4 linked regions of the Homo sapiens genome follow. The protein of the gene in region 4 purifies or fractionates together with the protein of the main gene of each other region. This does not show direct contact. Each region holds a gene or a part of one and is shown on either strand. Other genes may lie near its edges.

Evidence for each region. Proteins that work in one complex are often made in the same cells at the same time.
Region 1: the proteins of RHOD (region 4) and CETN3 purify together in Homo sapiens (affinity purification with mass spectrometry; 3 studies listed by BioGRID and IntAct, with this or other methods). This does not show direct contact.
Region 2: the proteins of RHOD (region 4) and SPTB purify together in Homo sapiens (affinity purification with mass spectrometry; 3 studies listed by BioGRID and IntAct, with this or other methods). This does not show direct contact.
Region 3: the proteins of RHOD (region 4) and PLXNB2 purify together in Homo sapiens (affinity purification with mass spectrometry; 5 studies listed by BioGRID and IntAct, with this or other methods). This does not show direct contact.

Annotation. Positions count from the first base shown.
Region 1 is NC_000005.10:90,402,133-90,407,469, forward strand, and holds part of CETN3 (centrin-3), read right to left. Parts: intron 3,668-5,337; coding exon 3,553-3,667; intron 1-3,552. UniProt on the Homo sapiens protein: Plays a fundamental role in microtubule-organizing center structure and function. As a component of the TREX-2 complex, involved in the export of mRNAs to the cytoplasm through the nuclear pores.
Region 2 is NC_000014.9:64,770,784-64,776,120, reverse strand, and holds part of SPTB (spectrin beta chain, erythrocytic), read left to right. Parts: intron 1-369; coding exon of another isoform or gene 370-471; exon of another isoform or gene 472-702; intron 703-717; coding exon 718-996; intron 997-1,593; coding exon 1,594-1,724; intron 1,725-2,696; coding exon 2,697-2,901; intron 2,902-3,166; coding exon 3,167-3,541; intron 3,542-4,991; coding exon 4,992-5,236; intron 5,237-5,337.
Region 3 is NC_000022.11:50,286,023-50,291,359, forward strand, and holds part of PLXNB2 (plexin-B2 isoform 3 precursor), read right to left. Parts: intron 4,576-5,337; coding exon of another isoform or gene 4,563-4,575; coding exon 3,495-4,562; intron 3,121-3,494; coding exon 2,938-3,120; intron 2,850-2,937; coding exon 2,721-2,849; intron 2,016-2,720; coding exon 1,915-2,015; intron 1,772-1,914; coding exon 1,645-1,771; intron 1,243-1,644; coding exon 1,089-1,242; intron 266-1,088; coding exon 151-265; intron 77-150; coding exon 1-76.
Region 4 is NC_000011.10:67,066,847-67,070,193, reverse strand, and holds part of RHOD (rho-related GTP-binding protein RhoD), read right to left. Parts: coding exon 3,347-3,347; intron 1-3,346. UniProt on the Homo sapiens protein: Involved in endosome dynamics. May coordinate membrane transport with the function of the cytoskeleton. Involved in the internalization and trafficking of activated tyrosine kinase receptors such as PDGFRB.

The DNA of each region.
Region 1 (5,337 bases), on a different chromosome or scaffold from region 4:
TGAGCCACCAAGCCCAGCCTCTTTTTTATTCTTAAATGTATTTTCTTTTCACCCTCGCCATCCTCAGCGAAAAAAATAGTATTTTCTGTCTGCAGTCTCTCTTCCTTCCAACTCATCATCAATAATACTCTCATCAGTTTTCTTTCTCAAACATATCATATCCCCTTCCCTTAAAAATTGTGAATGATCTCTGCTGACTAGAATTCAAAATCTTCATGTTTTGCAAGACTTTACCAATCTGGCCCAATCCTATGTTTCCAGTCATTTCCCTATGTCTAGCCCAGAACACTACCTAGTTTCCCAAACATGCTATCCGTCTAGTACCATTCTTTGTTGTTGCTGCTTTCTAAGCCTAGAATGCTTTTTCTCTACTCTTCCTGGCAATCTTGGAATGAAATCTTACTCACATTTCCAAAGGCCTAAATTTAAAATCTCCTCTGCAAAGACTTCAATTCCTCTAGATCAGGGATTAACAAATCTTTCCTGTAAAAGGCCAATAGTAAATATTTTAGGCTTTGTAGAGGGCCATAAAGTCTCTAACTACTCACTCTGCCATAGTAGCACAAAAGCTGCATAAAAGAAGGGGTGTGGTGGTGTACAAGCAGCAGCTGAATTTGGTCCAAAGGCTATAGTTGCTGACTTCTGTCCTAGACAAAATTACAATTTACCACATAGTACTATAGCCTGTTGTCACCTATATTTACATTGTAAACTCCCTGAAAGAAGAACCTTTTAGTAACTTTTAATTAAGTCTTCTTCCCAACCCCAGTACAGTACCTAATACCAAAAAATTCAGTGTTAAATAAGCAAAATGAAGACAATAATACAGTATTACAATCTCAATCAGCAATAATAAGTAGTACATGTCAAAAATAGTGTACAAACGTTTGACTTATGTTAGTCTTAAAGACACTAATTCCTAAAATATCTATGTTACTCACTAGCCTCAGGCTGTCTTGACTCTAAACTTAAATTAAATATATTTTAAAGCTTTTTTCCAGTACTAGGAAGAGTCTATAATAGTTAACTGCCAAACTTCATCCAGATATATCTGTGGAACAGTGTCCTTGGGTAGTTCATAAAACTAGGACTCAAATGTTATGATTTAGAATCATCTGTCCCAAAGTATAAAACATATTAATCTGTGGTCAGTGATTAGTTAAAAATAATCAACAAAAGGGGTAATACATAGTTCCTGAATGATTCCCAAACAGTAATACATTTTTATTTGACACCTGGTACTCTCCATAGGTAGCCTTAAGATAGCTAAGATACATGTTGACCCTGTCAAAAGGTTAATCTTTTAGTGTCAAAGCTGAAGTTTAGCCACATCTATTTATTCTAGAAGGAACCCAGTATTTCTGCTCTGTTAATAACATAGAACAGATGGGGTGTCAGGAAAAAGTGGAGGTGGCATGGGATTCTGGTCCCAACTGCCAATAAAAATCACAATTTTTGGCCGGGCGCGGTGGCTCACGCCTGTAATCCCAGCACTTTGGGAGGCCGAGGCGGGCGGATCACGAGGTCAGGAGATCGAGACCATCCCGGCTAAAACGGTGAAACCCCGTCTCTACTAAAAATACAAAAAATTAGCCGGGCGTAGTGGCGGGCGCCTGTAGTCCCAGCTACTTGGGAGGCTGAGGCAGGAGAATGGCGTGAACCCGGGAGGCGGAGCTTGCAGTGAGCCGAGATCCCGCCACTGCACTCCAGCCTGGGCGACAGAGCGAGACTCTGTCTCAAAAGAAAAAAAAAAAAAAAAAAAAAAAAATCACAATTTTTAAATTGTGTTCATTTAAGGTGAAATAACATATTTTGTAAAATTATTAGTGATGATACAGTGCTTACAATAGCCTTTATGAAAAAAGTCAATAAAAAATATACACAAAGTCTATTTTATGTCCCAGTGATGCATATATGATTATTTCGAGCCCCTGAAACAAAGACAATTTTTTAAAGTAATAATAATAGCAAATGCTTAGTAGCACTTACAACATGCTAGGCCCTTTTCTAGGTACTTCACATATCATTAACTTAATCCTTAGAAGAATCTCATGAGAGAATACAATGATCCCCACTTTATAGTTGAAAATGAGGCATGGGGTATTAAAAAGACCAAGTTCCAGAGCTGTAAAGTGGCAAAACCAAGGTATGAACCAAGGGAATCTGGTTCCAAGTGCTAAACCACTATACTGTACTAAACATACCTGGATTATAGCTCCTTCCTAATAGTACCATTTCCACTATATACAAACACCTTGTTTCTACAAATAAACAATCTAAGGTAAAACTAGGAATACTACGATCATAAACTTCAGGAGAGTGTCCATTCTGGGAGAACAAAAGGTGGCTCTCTCCCTTTCCTCAAATAATTAATTCTACAAATTAGAGGAAAAAAGGAAAATGTCCCCAATGGACAAGTTGCCTCTCTAAACAGTCATATATTAGTTCATAAGTTGAGGATCTTCTGTGCTGTGTTTTTTTTCTCTTAGGTTCATCATTTATTTTCCATCTCAACTGCTTATGACTTGAGCTTTTGGATTTAAAAAACTGACTAATGACATGAATCTAAATTTTCTCTGCGTCTACTAATTGCCATTTCTTTTTGCTTCCCCTATTGCTTCTTGATTAATATTTAAAATAAGGGGTTTGTGTATATAGCAGAATTTGTTTCCAAATTTTTAAAATATCTTAAAATACTTATATGATGTGCTTATATCGTGACCCATTGGTTTAGAGAAAAAAAAAAAAAGAAATAAACCTGAATATTTACATATTTTGTAGATAATATTCTAGACAATACATTTAAGTTATAATAGCAACATCCTTGCCTTCCGGACTCTTCTATTTTGAAAAAGCCTGGTCTATATATGCTATAAATAATTCACTAAAATCAACTATAAAAAAATTTAGCCATATTAAGCCTATGACACATTATCTTCAGTTGGTGGTACTAGGATGTTTTCTCCTGCTTCCAGTATGCCCACTGCCTCCTTTACTACTACCCTCTAAACAGATGACTTTATCCACTGAGATCAAGGTCATCCAGAGGATGTAGCCTCTCATAAACTTTGTCAACCTGAAGTCGTGCATTTCATCTACAGCCAAAGATACCAACTACTACCAGTTCCCTCTTCTCCCACTTAGCCAACAAAAATCACATACCAGAAAGGTCTTGGGAAACATTTTCCAAACAGCAGGATATCAAATTTTCTGTTTTATTAAGCAAAAATAATTTTTTGATCACCCTTCAAGTTTTATCACATAATATAAATACAAACAACTTGGAAAAGCATCTTTCTATAAAAAGCTACACAATAGTTCCTTGGTTAGAATCTTCACAACAAAACAAAAGACAAAACTATAAATCTCAGAGCAAAGCCATATTTTTTCTTTGAAAAAAAAACCAACAAAACAAAACTGAGTAAGAGTCACATTATACACCAGTGTTCTATAAGAAAATTCCATAACCTAGAGAATTTAAAATTTAAAAAGTGATATTAATCAGACAATTTCCTAACAGCTGCTGATTACAAAGACTATTAAAATACACACCAACTTCATTAAAATCTTCAAAGGTGATTTTCCCTGTGGCTTCTCTGTCATAATCTTTAAGAATCTTCAGTACATCAGCTTTTTTTACATCAAACCCCAAGGCTCTCATTGCCACCTTTTGGATTAAAAAGGAAAAGCAAATTATAAAGCACTCTTTACAAAAGAATTTCTAATTATTAAGTTTTTACATCTTAAGAGATGACAACACATTAATAAAATATAACTTTTTTGCATGTTTTACCTCTTTAAAATAGCAGTGATAGTGTAATTGTTCTTCACTACTGAAATTAAGTATGCATAAGTTTTTTCATTTATAAATTGCATTTTTTATATGACAAAGTAACCAACAAGTGTTTACAGATTTTACTATATAAAATGCACTAACTTATTGCACAGATAATTTGATTGTTATTTGTTCTGAAGGGATTAACAATCAAAATGAGAAAAAGGCGTGGCATAAATATTAAACAGTTACATGATAGAAGAGATAAAACATTAAAACAAGAATTATCATCAGTCTTTCCATGATTAGTTACCAGGTAAATGATAGGGCTAAGGACCCTGAGTTTAGAGAAAAAAGAGATTTTGTTACTAATAATAAGGAAGGAGACATATTACTGACTAGAGAAGTCTTATTTGGAAAGATTCAAACTGTTCCTTGAAGGATAGATGAAGAGGAGCAGTAGGGTATTTGGGAAGGATGACTGGTATTAAAAGAAACACTGAAACGAATAGGTTCGAAGGACAATGAACAGAGCAGTTTACCTCACCTGAATTAGAAAAGTTCAGGTGAGGTAAACTGCTCACCTGAATTAGGAGGTGAATTCCACCTTAATTAGAAGAGTTCAGGAGGAAGAAAGCAGTTAGCAAATGAAAAAAGTAGTTGGTGGCAAAAGTGTAGAGAACATTCAGTAGAAAGCAAAGGAATCTGAACTTTAAGTAGTATACAATGAGGAGTTATGGTTTATGAGCAATGAACAATTTATGAGCAATGGTGAAAGAATTTTTAAACTATCTAAATTCAGTGGTAGTGTACAAGGTGAACTAGTAAGAAATCATTTAGGAAGCTCCAGGTATGAAATAAGGTCCCAAACCAAGATAGTCAATGGTTACAAATGGAACAGACATTATAAAGGAAGATCAAATCTGGGTAACCAAAAAAAAAAAAAAACAAAAAAAACAGTGGGAAAAGAGAGCCAAAGAGGACTGCAAGATTGAGAAAGCTAGACTTAGCAGGCCTATTAACTGCTTTTATACATTCTATCCTGTCACTGCATAGTTCCTATCCCTACTTGGAATTCTAATGCTTAAAAATCCCTTACGAAATTACAAAAATTAAAACTACCAAATAAACACTTACATTCACCTATCCATTAAGGCCATTAAAAATCTCAAAATACTATCTTTCCCACTGTGCTGAAAGTAAGTCCCATTCTACCCTAAACCCAAATCTCTCCTTATACCCTGACAAATAATAATTTACAAATCTCTCCCTACACTTTGACATTCTAGGTCTTAAAGCTGACATTTTTACCTATTAGCATGTGTCAACATCAAACAGCACTAAAGTTGTTTGCACCAGAGAAAGTGGATTGAGACTATGTTACTAACAAATCCAAATTATAAGATTAAAAGACAACACTCCCACAGTCTGAAAACAGTATGAGTCACCAAGAAACAAAAACAAAAACAAAAAACAGTGAAAAGAAGATGGTAAGAATAAATTCCAGTTTGAAATCCTTTAATTATGACAGTGAAAAATAAGCACCTTCCCTGGGAATGTAT
Region 2 (5,337 bases), on a different chromosome or scaffold from region 4:
CCAGCAGCAGCTAGCCCAGTCTTTAGGACCCAGAAAACAAGTAACACGTGTCAGGGCCTCCTGAAGAAAAAGGTGACCAGCCACCAGGGTGGGAGGAAGAGGCTGTGTTCATGACCAAAGGCTCAAACAGGGACTAATGCAAAGCTCACAAAAATATGAGAAATAGAAGTAGGGAAAAACAAAAGCTGAGACTGTAAGCAAGGGGCTGCTGTCACCTGTTCTTTTAGATGGAAGGCAAAAACTGTGCCCACCTGAGCTGCTGGGTTGGGCGTATCCTGCGTAAATGATCCTGCATAAATCCTGCAAAAGCTGTTAGAATAAGGTATCAAAAAGGCCATTTTTCTTTTCCTTCCAACACATACACCTAAGGAATCAAGCTCTGCTGAAGCACAGGAAGATAGGGGACAGTCAAGAGCACAGGCTGCCAGGTCAGGTGGAGCTGTGTTCAACTCCGGCTCTGCCACTGAGTGACTTCACTGCTGCATGCTGGTCTCCACATGCTTATCTCAGCAGGCCACCTGAGGGTGCAAGAATGGTGCACATGAGGTGCTTAGCAGCCCGCAAGAGGTCATTGGTAGTTCTTATCGCCATCACCTGCTCTGCTCTAGCAACGGGGGTGAGAGGGACCAAGGGTGTCAGAGCTGTGCTGCCACTGCTGAAGCAGCCTCCCCCGCATGGTGGGAAGGCCCTGCCCCGAGCCCTTCCTTCTGGCCGCAGACACTGCAGAATGAGATTCTGGGCCATACGCCGCGGGTTGAGGATGTGCTGCAGAGAGGGCAGCAGCTGGTGGAGGCGGCGGAGATCGACTGCCAGGACCTTGAGGAGCGCCTGGGGCACCTGCAGAGCTCCTGGGACAGGCTGCGGGAGGCAGCGGCCGGGAGGCTGCAGCGACTGAGGGACGCCAACGAGGCACAGCAGTACTACCTGGATGCAGACGAGGCTGAGGCCTGGATTGGCGAGCAGGAGCTCTACGTCATCTCCGATGAGATCCCCAAGGTCTGTTCGGGCAGGGGATACCAGCCAGGGTGCCCAGGCAGAGAGGAAGAGTTGAGGTTGGCTGTCGGTAGGGAGCCTTGTGAGTCCAACTGTGTGAGGAGTGAGGCCAGGGGAGGGGCACAAGGAACCCACAGACTCCCTGCCCTCCCTTGGTGCCTCCTTGAACACACCCCTGCAGGGCACACACTGAAGCCAGGTGCCTCCTGTTTACCCACTTAGGTTTGCTCTAACCCAAGGGTTCTCTACTTTTCTTTACCCTGGATTCTGTACGCTATGAAAGAGATGGGGTGAGAGGTGACAGGTGGGGGTCTCTCAAAGCTGGAATGATATAGGATGTTTTCATGGGGACAGGGGTTAGAGCACAAAAGGAAGGGTATATGTCGGATACGAATCAGGGGAGTCCAGAGAGGAAGGTAGGGCACGGGCATTGCTGGGAAATCAGAAGGGCAGGAAGGAAGCATGTGTGGCTCTCCTGCGGGTGTCCCACAAGCCTACTCCCCTCCTCCCTCGGGCACCTCCAGGAGTGGGGGCACAACTTGCCAAGGGAGGGATCATGGCCAGACTGAGCTCTGGCGCTGACCGTCTGCTGCCTCCTAGGATGAAGAGGGCGCCATTGTGATGCTGAAGCGACATTTGCGGCAGCAGCGTGCGGTGGAGGACTACGGCCGGAACATCAAGCAGCTGGCCAGCCGGGCCCAGGGCCTGCTGTCTGCAGGCCACCCTGAGGGGTGCGTGCGCCCCCTGTGGTGACTCGGTCAGGAGATGGGGATTGAGCCAGGGGCCCACCAGCCAACGTCCCTTCAGATTTAAAAGGAAAATGGAAAGAGTTTTCCCATCAAATAGGGCTGGAGAAAATTGCTGCGGGACTGGTGATGGATCCAATTTCATTTTATGCCTTGGTTTTGTGTGAATCACTTCCAGCTGGGCCATCGAGGCCCTGGTTTTCGAAATGATCAGAGAAGGGGTTAGCAAAACTACCCTCTTGGTGACCTGAGAGCACCAATTTTCCGAAGGGTTACAATATGCTAAGGGACACTGAAGACTACTTTAGCTTTTATTTTTATGGTCCAGAAGGTCTCCAGGACTTCACAGTCCAGACAGAACCATGATGTAGGAGTGCAGGTGGAAACCTGTGCCCACATGGGCTGCGAGGTTTTGTGGATCCTGCATAAATGGAAGCCCACTGGGCCACAGACCACACACTGCCCCCAGCCATGGCCCTGTCCTCAGCTGCCATTAGGGTGCCCACCACTGTGGGTCCTCAGCAGCCACCCCAGAGGTTTCCCTGGGAGCCACATTGTCTGGGCCCCTAGTATGTCTTTTCCCTCCCTGGAGGGCTGAGCAGAGCTGTTGCTGCGGGAGCCCCACTCAGGTAGTGCTGCTCCCCCAGCCTCTCTGGAAGAACAATGGAGGCGTTCCCCATTTGCACTTGTCCCTGTAAGCTTGCCAGAGTGAGGGGCACCATGGGAAGCACCCCTCCAGGACAGAATTCCAGGACACAGTGTGTCATCCCCTGAGGCTAGGGTGTGGCCCCTTCTCTCCCCAGCTCTTCCCCGGCAAAGCCCCTGTCATTTCTCCAGAGCTTCACTCCCTACCTATCCCTGCCAGGGGGCTGTGGTTGGCATATGTTGGCTCCCTGGAGCCACGGCTCTGGGTTCGTGGCTGCCGTCTCTGAGGGCCTTTTTGGTTTTGAATTCCAGGGAACAGATCATCAGACTTCAGGGGCAAGTGGACAAGCACTACGCAGGGCTGAAGGACGTGGCGGAAGAGCGCAAGCGCAAGCTGGAGAACATGTACCACCTGTTCCAGCTCAAGCGGGAGACCGACGACCTGGAGCAGTGGATTTCAGAAAAGGAGCTAGTGGCCTCTTCCCCGGAAATGGGGCAAGACTTTGACCACGTGACTGTGAGTAGCCACAACTCCTGCTGTTTTTGTCTTTCTCTAATGCGGTAGACGCAGCCAGCCGTCACTCAAGACACACAGAGTGCTGCATAGGACGTAACCTCCCCAGTGTGAGGCGGGACCAGCCGATGCAGGCCTGCCCTGGGGAAGGTGTGACAGCGCAGCTCCCGGAGCTGCAGTTGCTGCCTGGGAAAGTCTTTGGCTAAGCTGGTGACACCTGTAACCCCTGTGCCCCCCATAACCACATTTCTGTCTGCCCCATGCCTAGCTTCTGCGGGACAAGTTCCGGGACTTTGCCCGGGAGACCGGGGCGATTGGGCAGGAGCGGGTGGACAATGTGAATGCCTTCATCGAGCGACTCATCGACGCGGGCCACAGCGAGGCGGCCACCATCGCCGAGTGGAAGGACGGGCTGAACGAGATGTGGGCAGACCTCCTGGAGCTCATTGACACGCGCATGCAGCTGCTGGCCGCCTCCTATGACCTGCACCGCTACTTCTACACGGGTGCCGAGATCCTGGGCCTCATCGACGAGAAGCACCGCGAGCTGCCCGAGGACGTGGGGCTGGACGCCAGCACGGCCGAGTCCTTCCACCGGGTGCACACAGCCTTCGAGCGGGAGCTCCACCTGCTGGGTGTCCAGGTACCTTCAGCCCCCTGCCGCCCACCTGCTACCAATTTCCAGGAGCCCTGGGTGTCAGTCCCCACCTGGCTGTCAGCAGGAAAACCTCTAGGATAAGTGCCAGGAGGTTTTGCCTCCTTAGACAGCCAGGAGCTCAGGGCTGGGAGCAGTGGCTTTCAGATGTTCCTTAGCTTCAGAAGTCATTCTTTAAACTGAATCCTCACAAAAGGCCAATGCATACAATACTATACGGTTGCAGTTTCTCCAGTTGTGCAGTACTATTAGTGGACACACGCACAGCACTTTTCTAGCACCAGGTGCTCTTCTGAGCAATGTATGTAGCCGCTGGACCCTCATGGCAGTCCTCTGAGGCAGCTACTAATATTCCCTGCACTTTGTAGATGAGAAAAGGGAGAGGTAGAAGACCCATAAGTTTCCCAGGAACATGTAGGTACGAAGTGGAGCCAGGGCTCAGACCCTGGCAGTCTAGCTATAGACCCCACATACTTAGCCACCGGGCACTTCAGCCTTTCCACATGGGAGCTGGAGAGCCCCCAAGTTCTACTGTTCAGACCCCTGCCCCATCACTGGAGTGCCCTCCGCAGATCCGTAGGGTGCCCCAGAGCTTGGTGTGATAGAAAGGGCAAATGCAAGGGGGCCCCTGTTGCTGAGGGCTCCCCCAGCTTCCAGTGCAGCAGGGAGAGGTAGGCTGGCTGCGCAATCCCAGGCCAGCCCTGCAGGGCTTGGGGACAGAACACCAGGGTTGGCTGGGCCCCTGGTTCATCCAAAAGGGGACCTCTTAGGGAAGTGTCCTCCAGCTGGAGTGGAGGGCCTGGTGTGTGGCTGTTGCATTTGGGGATGCCAGGGCCCCTGAGATAGGTGTAGCCCCACTGAGGTCTTAGGAGTGAGGTTTCACTGTCCCCAGGGCCAGCCTCAATCAGGGGATCTGGTGCAACCACTTCCTTGGAGAGGCAGCACACAGAATGGTTAAGAACGGGGACTCAGGAGCACGGTGCAAATCCCAGCTGTACCCCTTTACTAGTGTGAAGGACCCTGGACCAGTTACTTAGCTTCCTTGTGCCTCGTTTTCCCCATCTCAGAAACAGCAATAGTAATAGTACCTCCTTCCTGGGTTTGTTGGAAAGACGAAGAGAGTTCATCAGTAGAAAGTGTTTAGAACAGTGCCTGATATGTAGTTCCTCTCATTAGTGTATTGTTGAGGAGATCAAAGGGCAGGATTTCCTCTCACTCCCAAACCTTCACAAAGTTCAAGAGGTATCTTGGGTAGGCAGAGGTGTTAAAGCAAGGAGTCTTCTCCTACAGCACCCACTGGGTGGAGGCTGAAGATCCTACCTTCCAGCAGTGCCCTGGGCAGGGAGGCCAGGAGGAGGTAGCTGCCCTTCCAGTCCTAGGCCCACAGCACCTAGGGAGCAATGTCCAGGGAACAATGTCTGATTTTGCCTGACCACAGGTGCAGCAGTTCCAGGACGTGGCCACCCGTCTGCAGACAGCATATGCTGGGGAGAAGGCAGAGGCCATCCAGAACAAGGAGCAGGAGGTGTCTGCCGCGTGGCAGGCGCTGCTCGATGCCTGTGCCGGGCGCCGGACCCAGCTAGTGGACACGGCGGATAAATTCCGCTTCTTCAGCATGGCCCGTGACCTCCTCTCCTGGATGGAGAGCATCATCCGGCAGATCGAGACCCAGGAGAGGCCCAGGTGAGGGGAGTGTCCTTGAGGCAGAGGCAGCTCCTCTCCAGGCCAGAGGAGCCCGGCCAACCAGGGTGCTGCACTGTGGCTCCTCCGTGAAGGGACAGTCC
Region 3 (5,337 bases), on a different chromosome or scaffold from region 4:
GGGCGAAGCCTCCCGGCACTCGTGGTAGCGCAGGTCCCACTGGCAGGTCCAGCGGTTGCTCACGCAGGAGATGCACCTGCATCCAGAGGGGATCGTGAGCAGGGCTGGGGTGGACGGGCAGGGTGGGGTCGATGGGCACAAGACACTCACGGCAGGTTCTCCTCCAGGCTCATGGCCTGGCGGCAGTCGTAGAAGGGGTACTGGTAGGACGTGAGGAAGATGTTGCCTCGTCTAAGGAGGAGCTGGATGGTCACGGCCACGTGGTCTGCAGACAGCAGAGGGGGAGGTGTCAAGGTGGCGGCCGCAGGGCCGAGGGCCAGGCTGGGCCTCCCCTGGGGCTGACTCCTGGGGCCAAGGTGGAGACCCCTGGTCTTCAGGGGGCCCTGCCAGGACGCCCCGCATTCATGTTGGGCGGGGCCTGCCACCTGCTATCAGATCTCGGGTGGGGCTGCCAGGACGCCCGTTCACGCTGGGCTGGACCTGCCACCTGCTATCAGATCTTGGTTCGGGTGTCGGGCGCAGCACCGGGCTTGCCTTTCTCCCCCGGGTCCAGGTTGCTTTCATACCCTCTGTTCCCGCAGGCACTGAGGGCAGCGGCTCCTTGGAGTCTGAGTGGGACCTGCCAGGTCCCTGCCCACGTCACTGCGTGGCCCCACTGCCCCCAAAACTCAGGGGACATGGGCGCGACGCCTGCCCTGGCCCACATGCGAGGCCCTGCAGCCTCTGGGAACGGCCCTGCTCTCTGAAGCTGGACATGGCAGGAAGGGGTGAGGGGCGTCTGCCGAGACGACGGGGCCTGGCGCCTGGCACCCACATGCCGCTCCGGACGTGATGAGGGAGCAGGCTGAAGACAAGTCACCTTTGCTACAGGCCTGGGGGGCGTGGCTGCGGACAGCCCAAGAAGCCAGAACCTCCCCAACAGGCACAGCAACCCCACCACAGGCTTCATTCAGGCTGGGCCCCCGGAGCAGCCGCGGAGTGTGCCTGTGCAGAGCCTGCACCCAGGGGCCAGCAGAGGCGAGAGCCCGTGTGCACAGGGCCCCGTGCGACCGAGAAGGGCCACCCGGGGGCTCGGGAAGGGGCCTCACCCTGGCCTGGCGGTGTGACGGGGATGCTGCTTGGGGAGTTGCAGATGACGGCCTCGCCCTCCACGCGGGCGGGGTGTGGCGGCGACTCCCCAAAAAGGCACAGCAACTCGTCCTCCTCGCTCAGGGCAGGGAGGGGGCTGACGGTCAGCTGCACCTGAGGGAGGGGCCGTGCCGCTCACACTGGGAACCCCGAGTCCTGTCAGCCCACCTGCCGGTGACCCGACCTCCCTGCGTGTGTGGGCGCACGTCCCAGTGGAGCCTCCAGAACCCGACTCCACGTCTTCCAATACAGGCCTCTCTGTGGTCACCCCAGCAACTCCTGGGACAGGGCCTGAGTCCACCCTGGATATGGACAAGCCCCACCCCTGCCCGCCCAGGTCATAGGGGTCCAGGGGACCAATGGAGGGCGGGCTCCATCCCTAAGGCTCGGTGCCCAGAGCCCAGGCGGGGGAGATGTGGAGCCCTCCCCTGCCTGTCCCAACAGCTCCCAGCATGGGGGAGCCCCCACCTGGCCCGGCCTGGGGCCCAGGACCCCCACCCCAGACCCACCACGCACCTCCCCCTGGGCCCGCCGGCTCATGTTCTGTGGCTGGGCGCTGGTGACGGCCACGCAGGACTTGCTTCGGCTCCACAGCCAGTGGCTGGCCTCCTCGGCCCGCGGACACTCGGCCTTCCGGGTGCATCTGCAGGCGCAGGGGGCGGCCTCAGCCCAGGGTGGAGTCTTGTTCTCCCGGGACAGGACAGTGCGATGTGCCCCCCGACCCAGGCCACGACCTTCCGGGATCCCAGAGGCAGGCCGTGTCCCCGAGCCACCCCAGGCACTCACCGTCCCTCGACGACGCACCAGCCGCAGTAGGGGTCCTGGGAGTCGCGGCACTGGGTGCAGGTCGGGTAGCTCAGGCACTCCTGCACCGGCAGCCGGAACACCTAGGGCAGCGGGGCCGTGAGTGGGACCACAGCAGAGGCCGCACGGGCCTTCCGCAGACCCCAGATGTCCCCAGACCGCCAGCTTGACCCAGCTCTGTCCCGGGGCCTCGGGAGCCTCAGACACCTCAGGCTTGATATTAAACAGTTCTGGCTCTGGGTGGCCATGCCTGGCCCAGGATCCCGATGGGAGCCCAGGGAAGCCTGGAGGTCTTGGCTATGGTGTCTCCCGGGGCAGCTCCTGTCCTCTACACTGGCTCCCTCCGAGGGGTGCTCCTAGGGCTGGCCTGAGGGTCTCTGGCACTAACCCCCCACAAGCTTGGGGCCCAGGCCCATGTTCTCCACTGACTGAGCTCACATGGGCTGTGCAGGGACCCCGTCTTCCCATCCACCCTCAGCAACACGCCTCAGACACCAACCCAGGTCCCTTCCATCAGGACAGGGCAGAGGCGGGGCCAGAGGGAGAGACATGGTTGAGACCACAAAGGACAAACAGAAGGAGCGGCAGAGACGGGGCAGTGCTAGAGAGACACAGGATGGAGGCACTGCCCGGGACCCACCCAGCCACCCCTCATCCAGACCAAGGAGAAGGGCCCAGCTCTGCAGCACCCCATCCTCCTCTGGCCCCCAGGCCTGTCCTAAGGGCCTGGGATGCAATGACCGGGCACACTTGGCCTAGAGTGCTCTCCGGGGCTGCGTCTGGCTCACCTTGTCCTGGGTCATGGCGTACAGGCTGCCCAGGTCTCCAGACAGTACCAGGTCGCGCTTGACTCTCTTGTTTATCTCCACAAGGATAGAGTCGTACTCTGAGGAGGTGCCATCTGGGGTGAGGTACACCTGTGTGCGCGAGGGCAGGCCGGTGAGGGTACGGGCCTTGTGCACAGACGGGCCCTCCAGAGCCTCCCCGCCCCAGCCTGGGCCAAACCTTGAGGATCCGGCCATCAGAGGTGCCCAGAAAAGCAACAGTGTGGTTGTTCTCGGCGGCGACCGTCACGGCCGTGAGGTTCAGGCCTCCACGCTGCAGCACGGCTGTGCCTCTGAGCCCGTCGCGGCTGCCCAGCGGGTAGGGCAGGTGCTCCGAGCCACATGGGAAGCTCTTGCTGGAGCCCTGCGGACCACAGCGTGTCAATGGCAGGCAGACCCCCTGTCCTGAAGGGCCCTCTCCACTCGCGCTCCAAGACTCGGGACAGGCCCTTCCCTTCCCTCCGGCACACGTCCTACACACGTCCCCGAGAACAGAACCCACATGGCAGGGAGCCCCACCGTGCTCACTGTTGTGTTCCCCAGTGCCCGACACAGGCCTGGGACTGGCGCCAGCGTGAATGGCATTGAGAGATGCGGCACCCACCCACGCAAGCGCCCAGGCTGGCGAGAGCCACGGCCACACTGCTCACGTGCACCCTCCCCAGCAGGCTGGGACACGCAAACCCACGAACGGACGCCTGCAGTCCGGGCCCTGCGAGAACACACTGAGGCCCATACCGGCGCGTGGCCGCCGCACTGGATATCGCCGTGGAAGGGCTTGTAGAAGATGTCACGGGCCTCCCGGGTGCCTGTGTAACAGGCGTTGCGGTTGGCCTCCATCTTGGCGTGCACCTTGTCCAGCGGGAACAGGCAGAGGCCCGCACCGGGCCCCCCACTGCTCCGGCTGTCTCTGCTGAAGACAGCATATAGCACCCTGCCAGAGCCAGGCGCAGCCACGGAGGCGGCCAGGCAGGTGCCAAAGGCAGCGGCGTGGATGTCGGGGTCCCGGCACTGCAGGTCCATCTCCAGGTAGGAGTAGTAGTTGGGGTCTTCTCTGCACATGCGTGCCAGCAGCGTGCGGTTCCGGGCCGGGTGCTTGTCCTGCTGGTTGAAGACAAAGAAGACGTAGGGGCCGTCCTCGAAGGCCGCCACGAACTGCTGTGTGTTGGTGGACAGGTAGCCGGCCTTGTAGGTGGCGTGGTCCGTGTAGGCTTCAAAGGCCTCCCTGCTGTCAGTCCGGTCCAACAGCCGAGTGCTCACGATGATGCCGTTGTCGTGTGGCCCATTGCCTTTGCCCACAAACAGCACGCGGTCACCACCAGGACCCGTGGAGCTCACCAGCCCCACTGTGGCCACGCCCTCATCATTGCTGGCCACGAAAGACTTCTCCCCGCTGCCGTCCTCGTAGAACAGGCGGAGGGAGATGTTGCTCAGGGCGCGCAGAGCGCAGATGCCCTTGAAGAGGCTGCCGCACTCCACCAGGCGCTTCCTGGGAGGGTCGAGCAGCAGCAGCTGGTTGACATTGTCAGTCATCTCAGCCTCATGGCACTGGCTGGCCTCGATGGGCGGCGTGCACTTCTTGTTGTCCAGGGCCGGGCCCGTGGCCACCTGCTGCTCCAGCTGCAGCTTCGCATCCAGCTGGTAGAGGGCATTCACCGCCCCCAGGTACACCACGCCTGAGGCCTCATCCACAGCCAGGTGGTTCAGCTCTTTCTCGCTGCGGAAGAAGTCCAGCTTGCGGGGCCTCAGGCTGGCACCTGCGCCCAGCAGGCCCAGCAGGGTCAGGGCCCAGAGCTGCAGTGCCATTGCCCCCCGCACCCTGTGGGAAGAGAGAAGGGTCAGGGGAGCCCCGACCCAGAGGACCCCCGATCAAATCCCTCTCCAGTCCCTGCCCCAAACGTCAGAACATGGGAGAGAGGGTCACGCCACTCCACGAACTGAGGAACCTGGAGCTCCGCCCCTTCCTGCTTCACACCCCCGCCATCCTCGAGGTCTCGCCGGAGACCACTTCTCAGCCCTCCTCAAGTCCACCCTGACTGACCACTGGGGCCAAGGCACTGCCATCGCCTGCTACAGGATCCCTCCCGGAGGTGCTGAAAACACCGGCAGGCCTATCCCCGAGGCAAGGAGTTGACGCCCCCAGAAAGGCTCTCAAGTGCTCACATTCATGCCCCCTGACCTGTGACCCCAAGGAGCTCCAGGTGGTCGGGACGCACCGGCCCCAGCGCACAGGCTCAGGCTGACAGACAGACCCCTGGACGTTGGAACAGGTGGCTCACCCATGGGGCAGAGGTGAAGGACACGGGAAACCAGAGGCTCAGGTGAGAGCGAGGGGTGCCCTGTGCATAGCCCAGCAAGTGCACATGCTGTTTACAACTGCCCGCCAGAGCCCCCAGGCGGCCTGAGCCTCCCTGACCACCTCCAGGCCCCCTGCCCTGGTGAAACAGTGGAAGCCAGCAATCACCCACAGCTCCTCGCTCGGCCCATGTCACGCCCAGGGCACAGCCTCTGATGTGCGCACAGCGGAGGCAACAAGGGGACCTGGGGAGCCATGAGCAACTCCAAATCCACCAGGTCTCAG
Region 4 (3,347 bases):
CAGGTGCGGTAACTGAGGCACAGAAAGGCGATGTAACTTGGCCTTGGCTGGAAATGGCAGGATTTGAGCCTGGGGGTGGGGCTCAGAACCCTGCTCCTGCCGTTCTAGAATCTTTCCTCTCTGCAGGGTAAGGGCCCTCATGGACACCCACCAAACTGAGCAAAACATATAAGGAAGTAAGGGATCCTTTAAAAACAAATCTGGGCCAGGTGTGGTGGCTCACGCCTGTAATCCCAGCACTTTGGGAGCCTGAGGCAGGTGGAACACCTGAGGTCAGGAGTTTGAGACCAGCCTGGCCAACAGTGAAACCCTGTCTCTAGTAAAAATACAAAATTTAGGTGGGCATGATGGCGGGTGCCTGTAATCCCAGCTGCTCGGGAGGCTGAGGCAGGAGAATGGCATGAACCTGGGAGGCGGAGGTTGCAGGGAGCTGAGATCGCGCCACTGCATTCCAGCCTGGGCGACAGAGTGAAACTCCATCTCAAAATAAATAAATAAATCAATTAAAAAGATAAAAATAAATCAATCAATCCAGGCCGGGCTCGGTGGCTCACGCCTGTAATCCCAGCACTTTGGGAGGCTGAGGGCAGGCAGATCACCTGAGGTCAGGAGTTCGAGACCAGCCTGGCCAACAAGGGGAAACCCCGTCTCTACTAAAAATACAAAAATTAGCTGGGCGTGGTGGCGTGCACCTGTAGTCCCAGCTACTCTGGAGGCTGAGGCAGGAGAATCGCTTGAACCTGGGAGGCGGAGGTTGCAGTGAGCTGAGATGGAGCCACTGCACTCCAGCCTGGGCTACAGAGTGAGACTCCGTCTCAAAAAAATAATAAATAAATAAATCTGCTCACAAAATGGTTGCAGCAGCTGTCTGCCTCAACTGCTTGCCTGGTGGAGGGAGGGCTGCTCTGCAGAATGTGAGGCCACCAGGGCCGAGTTCTTTCAGCCTGGACTACAGCTGGGGAGCCGGGGATCCCGGGAGGGGGCTTCCTATCTCCAGGAGCACTAAGTCGGCTGAAGTCGGCTGGTTTGGGCATGAAACTTGCCTGATAAAAATTGGCATCAGCCGGGCTTGGTGGCTCAAGCCTGCAATCCTAGCTACTCGGGAGGCTGAGGCAGGAGAATCGCTTGAACCCAGGAGGTGGAGGTTGCAGTGAGCCCAGATTGTACCACTGCACTCCAGCCTGGGAGACAGAGTGAGACTCTGTCTCAAAACAAACAAACAAACAAACAAACAAAAATTGGCATCAAACTACCTCATTCCTGGAAGCAAATGGGGCCTTTGTGGGGTCCCTGGCAGATTCCCCACACCCCCGCATCCACCGAAACTGCCCATGAGAAAGGTTTCCTTGGTGGCTCCCACTGAACCCAGCAGTGAATCCTCTCTTTTTTGAGACAGTCCCGCTCTGTCGCCCAGACTGGAGTGCAGTGGTGCGATCTTGGCTCACTGCAACCTCCGCCTCCCGGGTTCAAGCAATTCTCCTGCCTCAGCCTCCCAAGTAGCTGGGTTATAGGCATGTGCCACCACGCCCGGCTAATTTTTGTATTTTTAGTAGCAACGGGGTTTCACCATGTTGGTCAGGCTGGTCTCAAACTCCTCAAATAATCCACCCTCCTCAGCCTCCCAAAGTGCTGGGATTACAAGGCGTGAGCTACCGCACCCGGCCACCATCAGAGAATCCTTAGCCCTGCTCCTACTGATCCCTCGATAACCCCGACCCTGGGCATCACTCCCTCCTACCTGACTGAGCCTGCACTTCACCCCAGGACCCCACTCTCCTGGCTCTCCTAGGTCTTATGGGGCCTTGCCCTCCTCCTCCTCTCCCTGGGGTTCAGCCTGTGGTCTTTCCTCTCCTCTAGCTGCTCTCCCTTCCTGGGCAGCCTCCCCCAGGCTTTACTGCACCCGTAGCTTCTAAATGTGCAGCTGCATTTAGGCTGCCCAGCTGGACTGCCTGCTCGGAGGAACTGCAGACGCATGCATCGCACTGCCTGCCGGACACCTCCACTAGGATGTCCCACTCCCGAACCCAGCTTGCTCCTTGTCATCTTGGCCAAGGGCAACTCCACCTTCCAGCTGCTCTGGTAAAAACTCCTCCCAGGCTGGGCGTGGTGGCTCACGCCTGTAATCCCAGCACTTTGGGAGGCCGAGGCGGGCGGATCACGAGGTCAGGAGATCAAGACCATCCTGGCTAACATGGTGAAACCCCGTCTCTACTAAAAATACAAAAAATTAGCCGGGCGTGGTGGCGGGCGCCTGTAGTCCCAGCTACTCAGGAGGCTGAGGCAGGAGAATGGTATCAACCTGGGAGGCAGAGCTTGTAGTGAGCCGAGATGGCGCCACTGCACTCCAGCCTGGGTGACAGAGCAAGACTCCGTTTCAAAAAACAAACAAACAAACAAAAAAACTCCTCCCTCCCACCCACATCCAATCCAACAAGAAACTCTGATCATCAGCAAACTCCGCCTTCTAGACCGATTCAGAATCAGCCCCCTTCTCGTCACCCCCACTGCTAGCACCCTGGCCCCAGGCACCACCATCTCTCCTGGTACCCAATGCCCAGAACAGCACCAGAACGAATGTGCTCAATCATTCGTTCTGAATGAATGGGCGGAGCAGCCTGCCTGGGTTCAAATCCCAGTGTTACCACTTTAATAGATGTGTATCTTTGGACGAGTGACTGGATCCGGGAATAATAATACTCCATAAGGTTGGCCGGGGGAGTAAATGAGTAAATACATGCAAGTACCAAGAACACTGCCTGGCACGTGGTCAGTCCTTAAAATTGTCACCGTTGTTGTTGTTGTTGCAAATACTGTCATGGGCTGTACCCTGCGGAAACTCGGAGGCCCTGGCAGCAGTGGGTGAGGGGCTGTGCCATGGCTAAAGGCAGCTGGAGCAGAGGAATTCAAGGGGCCACATCCCTGATGCCCATGAGCAGCCTCTGAGAACCAGCAGCCACGCAGAGCTGCTGGACTCTGACTTGACTGTTCATGCACCTTGGGCGGGCACAGGCTGGGGAGATGTAGCAGCCTCTGGCTCACCCAGCAACCTCAGGCAGAGCCGCCGTGGGAAGAGCCACAGTGTTCGGAGTCTGCAGCATAGGGTAGGCAAGGAGCACTGTACTGGGAGTCAGAAGGGCAGACGCTGCCACCAAATCCCTGTGCCAGCAACCCTGGGCAAGCCACTGCCCCACTCTGAGCCTCAGTTTCCCCATATATACACCAAAAGCTCTGGAATCAATATCATTTTGGGCCTGCCAAGCTCTGACAGTCAGCTGGGTCGAGGGTGGGTGGCAGAGTGGAGTGGCCTGGCTATGGGGGCTATGCCTCCCTGCCCCCCAGTACCTACC